Homo sapiens: one gene and its partner. The protein of the gene in region 1 interacts with the protein of each later gene in a pairwise test. Each region holds a gene or a part of one and is shown in the gene's direction. Other genes may lie near its edges. The genes, in order: MLLT10 and SS18.

What was found.
Region 2: the proteins of MLLT10 (region 1) and SS18 interact in a two-hybrid assay, tested with the Homo sapiens proteins (one study listed by BioGRID).

Annotation. Positions count from the first base shown.
Region 1 is NC_000010.11:21,669,975-21,673,800, forward strand, and holds part of MLLT10 (protein AF-10), read left to right. Parts: intron 1-474; coding exon 475-730; intron 731-3,375; coding exon 3,376-3,826. UniProt on the Homo sapiens protein: Probably involved in transcriptional regulation. In vitro or as fusion protein with KMT2A/MLL1 has transactivation activity. Binds to cruciform DNA.
Region 2 is NC_000018.10:26,035,025-26,038,850, reverse strand, and holds part of SS18 (protein SSXT), read left to right. Parts: intron 1-191; coding exon 192-296; intron 297-2,927; coding exon 2,928-3,020; intron 3,021-3,723; coding exon 3,724-3,826. UniProt on the Homo sapiens protein: Appears to function synergistically with RBM14 as a transcriptional coactivator. Isoform 1 and isoform 2 function in nuclear receptor coactivation. Isoform 1 and isoform 2 function in general transcriptional coactivation.

The DNA of each region.
Region 1 (3,826 bases):
GTCCTCCGCTAGCCTTATAAACTCATGGATATGGTCCTCTAATGGATTTGTAGCACCTTAGTTCCCTTATTGTCACCTTCCTGTGTTGAATACTAAAGCTTATTTTAATTTCATGTCTAGGAAGTGTAGACATTGTTAAAAAAAAATGATGTTGCTTGACAAATGAGTATCTTCAGTATTACTGTGTCACTTCATAAATATAACTAATACATACTTTTACTAGTTGTTGCAATTTGATCCTGAAACAGCCATCTTTAAATTATGTAGGCTTTTTCTTTTCTTTTCTTTTTTTAAAAGTAATTATAATAGACTTAAATTGTTTTTGGATGATTTTCTTAGGTGAACTGACTTATTTTTAGAACAGAAACTTTGTGTTTATTCTGCAAGTTCTTCTTATTAATGTGGCACCCATTGTTTTCTGTAACTAAAATGTAATCAACTCTTTTTCCTTCCCTTTTTGAATCAAAATGTTAGACTTATACAAGCACTAGCAACAACTCTATATCTGGATCATTGAAGCGCTTGGAAGATACTACTGCACGATTTACAAATGCAAATTTCCAGGAAGTCTCTGCACACACCTCTAGTGGAAAAGATGTTTCAGAGACTAGAGGGTCAGAGGGCAAAGGGAAGAAATCTTCAGCTCACAGCTCAGGTCAAAGGGGAAGAAAGCCTGGTGGTGGAAGAAATCCAGGAACAACTGTGTCAGCAGCTAGCCCTTTTCCTCAAGGTATTAGTGATGTTTTAGTTAAAATACTTGTGTTTAAGATGGTTAATAATAGTTATGCTTTGTAAAATAATTGGTTTGTTTTTGAACTTATAACTAATGGATGTTCTAGATTATTATATGATTAGTTGCTTTAGTAAGATTACTTTAAAGATAGTGTTTCCTATTAAATTTTTTTAATAGGGACTTTTTCTTTCCTTTTATAATATGATTTGTGCTTCCAGAGTTGAATTGTAATTTTAATGTTTAACTAGATATGGAATAATGCTTAAAATTGGGGAGAAAAATAATAAAAGCTGGAGCTTTGCTTTGAGTTCTGTAGAACAGTCCTTCTTTTTGTTTGAGACGGAATCTCGCTCTGTTGCCTGGGCTGGAGTGCAGTGGCCGGCTCACTGCAACCTCCGCCTCTCAGGTTCAAGTGATTCTTGTGCCTCAGCCTCTTGAGTAGCTGGGATTACAGGTGCATGCCACCATGCCTGGCCAGTTTTTGTATTTTAGTAGAGATGGGATTTCACATGTTGGCCAGGCTGGTCTCGAACTGCTGATCTCAGGTGATCCTCCCGCCTTGGCCTCCCAAAGTGCTAGGATTACAGGTGTGAGATACTGTTCCTGGTGTCTTTTCCATAAATGTTTTTTATTTATATTTCCTAAACATTAAAAACAATTAAGGTTGGCCGGGCGTGGTGGCTCACATCTATAATCCTAGCAGTTTGGGATGCTGAGGTGGGCAGAACTCTTGAGGCCAGCTTGGGCAATGTGGTAAGACCTCATCTCTACAAAAAATTTAAAAATTAGCTGGGTGTGAACTGGGCACAGTGGCTCATGCCTGTAATCCCAGTATTATGAGGCTCAGTCAGGTGGATCATCTGAGTTTAGGAGTTGGAGACCAGCCTAGGCAACATGGCAAAACCCTGTCTCTCTAAAAAATACAAAATTAGCCAGGCATGGTGGCACATGCCTATAGTCCCAGCTACTTCAGAGGCCGAGGTGGGAGGATTGCTTGAGCCCAGGAGGTTGAGGCTGCAGTGAGCTGAGATTGCACTACTGCACTTCAGCCTGGGTGACAGAGTGAGACCCTGTCTCCTTGGACAGGCAAACAAAATTAGCCAGGCTTGGTGATGTCTGCCTGTGGCCCCAGCTCCTCAGGAGGCTACAGTGCGAGGATTGCTTGACCCAGGGAGGTTGAAGCTACAGTGAGCCGTGATTGTGCCACTGCACTCCAGCCTAGGCGACAGAACAAGACCCTGCCTCAAAAAACAAACAAACAAAAAACCAAAAACAAACAATAAAACCCACTAAATAAATAAATACAATCAAGGTTTACATTTTTTAGTAGATAAACAAATACTAGACAATTTTTAGGGGATTTACATAGGTCTCAGTAAATAAGTTGTTGATTAATAATGCATTTGTTATAAAGTTTGAAGTTTAACAGGTTAACACACTAACCTGTTTTCCAGGTTTTCAGTGTGTGTGTGTGTGTGTGTGTGTGTGTGTGTGTGTGTGTGTATTTTGAGACAGGGCCTTGCTTTGTTGCCCAGGCTGGAGGGCAGTCATGTGATCACGGCTCACTGCAAGGTTGACCTCCTGGGCTCAAGCATTCTTCCTGCTTCAGACCCTCAATTAGCTTTTGCCTCCACCTTTGTCTCCCAAGTAGATGGGACCACAAGCATGCGTCACCATGCCCAGCTCATTTTTAAATTTTTTGTAGAGACGGGTTCAGCCTCCTGAGTAGCTGGGATTAGAGGCACACGTCACCACCCCCGGCTAATTTTTATATTTTCAGTAGAGTCGGGGGTTTCACCATGTTGGTCAGGCTGGTCTTGAACTCCTGACCTCATGATCCTCCCGCTTCGGCCTCCCAAAGTGCTGGGATTACAGGCATGAGCCACTGCACCCAGCCTAAGTTTCTTATATCTTAGAATGGTATGGTGGGGTACTCATGTTCTTTAAAGAAAGAATAAGCAGTGATGGCTGATTTCTTTATGAAGTTCCATGAAAATTGGATTGGGAGAATGTGAGATATAGATTAGATTCCATATGATCATTATTTTGTCAAATCCATTTTCTATTATGGTAGATTCAGCTGAACAATAACAATCACTAGTATGTCTTAAAGTTAAAACTTAGAACTCATAACCTAGGAAACTTCTTAAGTTCTTATTGTATATTGGGAACATTTTCAATCATACCTTCAATATTCAAAAAAGAAGTTCCCCTAGACATTTAGAGTCAGATTATAGTCTTGTTAGGTCTTCTTGCATGACTGTGGAAAGGAGACTACTGTTCTGTAGTCCTTCCTCAGGCATACATGAGGTGTTTGGGGGAGAATTGCGGAATGTTGCTGTGGCAAAAGGTAGGTGAAATAAAGCGCATCTTATATCTTAATAATTATTTAAGTAATAGCTTGCAATTCCACAGTAAACATTTAATACCATCTATAAAATGACACATGTTTTTAAAGGTAATTTTGGGGATAAATTTGACAAGTCTTAATATACGAATGTCCTAAGTGTTGTAGTTAATTTTTTTAAACTCTTCTCTTTAATGATTATATCATGTCTGCTGCTTATGGGAACTTTAGCATCCAATTTTTCTGTCCCCCCCACCCCCCAACTTTTTTTTTTTTTTTTTTTTTTAAACTACAGGCAGTTTTTCAGGAACTCCAGGCAGTGTAAAGTCATCTTCTGGAAGTTCAGTGCAGTCTCCCCAGGATTTCCTGAGCTTTACAGACTCAGATCTGCGTAATGACAGTTACTCTCACTCCCAACAGTCATCAGCAACCAAAGATGTACATAAAGGAGAGTCTGGAAGCCAGGAAGGGGGGGTAAATAGTTTTAGTACCTTAATTGGCCTCCCTTCAACCTCAGCTGTTACTTCACAGCCTAAAAGCTTTGAAAATTCACCTGGAGATTTGGGTAATTCCAGCCTTCCTACAGCAGGATATAAGCGGGCTCAAACTTCTGGCATAGAAGAAGAAACTGTAAAGGAAAAGAAAAGGAAAGGAAATAAACAAAGTAAGCATGGGCCTGGCAGACCCAAAGGAAACAAAAATCAAGAGAATGTTTCTCATCTCTCAGTTTCTTCTGCTTCACCAAC
Region 2 (3,826 bases), on another chromosome or scaffold:
TAAATGTGGTATGTGGAGCTGCTGTGTATGTATGCATATGTATATGAATAGCTAAAAGTATCTGAAATGCCAAATTATGAGATGGGAATCTATAGTTGAGAAATAATCTTTCATAATATCAAATTAGAAAGAAAGCCTTTGATGACATAGAGAACACATTATTTATATCTTGACTGGTTGTGGTTTTTCAGGCCCACCACAGCAGTACTCAGGCCAGGAAGACTATTACGGGGACCAATACAGTCATGGTGGACAAGGTCCTCCAGAAGGCATGAACCAGCAATATTACCCTGATGGTAATCTCTCCTGATGTTAACTTTCCCATTTTCTATCCCTGCCTAATATTAATGTAGAGAGTTATTTAAAACATTTCAGTGAGGACGAAGAAACTAACAATTTGTTTCCTCTAAATTTTGAAACACTTCAGTACTCTAAAGTACCAATGATAGCATTAGTTTATAATCTAATTCAAAGTATATTTTAGGTGTTCCATTAGTACCATCAGGAATCACAGTCTGTCATTGGAATCCTTATGTAAAAGGATCTTTTTGTAATATGTTTAGGGTTGTTTGATTTCAGCCAAAGCTTATGTTTATTGATTTACTTTTTTTTAATAAGAGCTTCATTAAGATATAATTCACCTGCCATAAAGTTCACCCATTAGTTGACTTGTATTAATTGTACAAATACATAGAGTATATAGTTCTCAAGTTATTTTTCCAAGTCTCATCATTTTAATTAATGTTTCATACTTCTCAACAAACTAAGGTTTACATTAGTGCTTGCCTTTGAGAAAAATTTGGGAGACTAAATTATATCCATAATATAGCCATATAGAGATTGAGTAGAATGGGAAAGGCAATTTGGAAATAAGATTTTTAGTTAGGGTTTTTTGTTTTTTGTTTTTTTGTAGAAAGTGGCTTGTGAAAAATTGGTTAGTAAGATGCACTGTACTTCAGGAAAATTTGAATAGCAATAATCCAAGCATACAAGTAGGTTTTCACAGTACAGTTTCATCAATTTTTCTGTATGCTTGAAAATTTTATAATACAGTGTAGAAGAAAAAATAATTCAGAAATACATTACAAAATGATGTGGGTTGTTAGGGTTTGCCAAAAGCCTTATTCATGTATATGATCCTTTGATGTAAATATAAATTACTGAACAGAGAAACTAAGAAACTTAAAGCTAAAGTATTAGCAGCCATTGACTAGCAGCCCATGTAAGCTAGCAAGAAGATACAATTTAGGATATTTGAAAAAACATCTCACCTGTCATTTTTTGTTAATACATAAAACATAAAGGTACATTTGTACTTAAGGACATTGGTTTTTGTTTTGTTTTTTCTTTTCATATGTAAACATGGTATTAAGATTTTTTTAAATTAAAAACTTTAGTAAGATTGTTGTAGACTCTACGTATTTTAAAGACGTGAAATCTACTTTGTTAAATTATATGTATTAAGAAGTCTGCTGAAAATAAATGATTGTTTCTATTTTTTAATTTTTAATTACATTTTAAAGAATTAAATTTGACATTGTTGTTTTGATCCTGGGTATCTCTTGAAATGTGACATGTGTATTGTTATAACCTTTCTGTTCAAAATATATTGGTTTGTTATTTTGTAAATATCAAAACATTAAGGTTACTTTAATTCATTTTATTAGTGGATTTTAATTTGAAGGGTATCATTTTTGCATAGGTGTATATTACTTTATATCTGACATTTACATAGAGTATTCTATTTATGTCGACAATTAATATTTGTAAACAACATTGGCTCTTTTCTCTCATGTCCGGATATTTATGTTAGTAAATATATAGATTAGGAATTGGCAAACTTTTTCTGTAAAGGGCCAGATAATAAATACTTTAGTCTTTGTGGGCCATATGGTTTTGGTCTCAGCTACTGAACTCTTATTGTAGCATGAAAGCAGCTATGGACAATACTGAAATGAATAGGCATGACTGTATTCCAATAAAATTTTATTTACAAAAACTTGCCACTGGCCATATTAAGACTGCAGGCCATAGTTTGCCAACCCTTCATGTAGGTATTTATGAGGTGGCTTGGGAACATTAGAATACTAGAGCACTGAGTATAATGTTCATTTGTAATTTTATTCCTGTGTCCTTAATTAGGCATTTTTGTAAAATTGAGTTTAGATTTTAGGTAACTAAAAGGTTATTTCCTACATTTTCTTAGTGAAACTTTAAAAAAAAGAGTGAGAGTATTTTTCACTAGAGTCCAATTATCTCGCAGGTAAAATTTATTGTGCTTTAAAACTAAAGATATACTCTGTCAACACAATATTAATTTTATGAAGATGTATGTTTATGATACTTGAAATATTTTCTAAAGATTTCCAAAATGGCAGCATTAAGATATATAATTTTGCATCTGAAGATACTTTGAGATACTTAACTTTATGCAAGTAAATGTTAGAACTTGAAAATTTTTCAGTTTCTTTCAGGGGAAAAACTTATGGAACTCTTTTATATTTTGCATTGTTTTTAGCATATGCTGTGGAATTGGAGACCAGCAGAACAGGTGTTTGACAAAATATGATAATTGCTTCCTTTGTTCATTCTAATTTAATTTAGGTTATTTACATGTGAAAGACTTTTATTCTCTTTGTTTTTTTAAATGGGAGATAGTTTTTTTTCCCTCAATGAGGATTATCAGATTTAAGACAATAAGTGTAATGTTTCTAAAACTACTGCTTTTTGCTTTTAAAAAAATTTGCACGTTATCTCAATATGAAAACAATCACATTGGTAAATCTTTGGCTAATGCAATTGAAATTATTTTTTATGTTCCATTTCTTTTTCTTTTTTTTCAATTTTATCTGAAAGTTTAAATATTTTTAGGGTTTTCACTCAGTGGCCATTAACGTTTCTTCCTGTCTCTTGTCGAATTGATGTAGGTCATAATGATTACGGTTATCAGCAACCGTCGTATCCTGAACAAGGCTACGATAGGCCTTATGAGGATTCCTCACAACATTACTACGAAGGAGGTATCTATATACCTTCACACACATACACATATATATCCCCTTCTACAGGAATGAAAATTCTTGCATAAGACAACTTCTACCCATGCAAAGCTCTTGTAGAATACTAGTTGCTGGCTTTCTTGAAAGTTGCAGGGAGCCCAAAACAATCAAAATAATTTCCTTACAAATATTTAAAATGTATAACCATGACTTGCCATTTCTAACAATAATAAAAAGACTAAAACATTAAAGATAATTTTTTCCTCAGTGGAAATTTTCTATTTGAACATAAATCCATCAAACTTTTTTTTCTCGTGTGTGTTTACATATGTATAATTTTACATATAAGTATAGTGCCTTTAGGAAACAGCTTGCTGATCTCGTGTAGCTAGTGTGTGCTCTTGTAGCTGTCTTTAATTTTGTCTTTTTTATTTTATTTAGCATAGTCATGATCTTATGACTGTGATGTTCCAGTAAATGTAATGCTCGTATGGCAGAGACGCTGAAAATGCTGCAGTTCAACCTTGCAAAATTGGCTTTAACTGCAGTTTGTTTGGCCGAAATCCTTCTGTTTGGTTTGAGTTTTTTCTTTGTTTTGTTAACTTCTAAAAATCAATATGGCATTTCATTTTGTTCTTGTGTTGTTGGCTATGCATCTTAGAGGGAAAAAAGTTACTTAAGCAGACTTCTCAGTTTTTTTTCCTCTTCTCCAATTATCCTGTAGGAAATTCACAGTATGGCCAACAGCAAGATGCATACCAGGGACCACCTCCACAACAGGGATATCCACCCCAGCAGCAGCAGTACCCAGGGCAGCAAGGTTACCC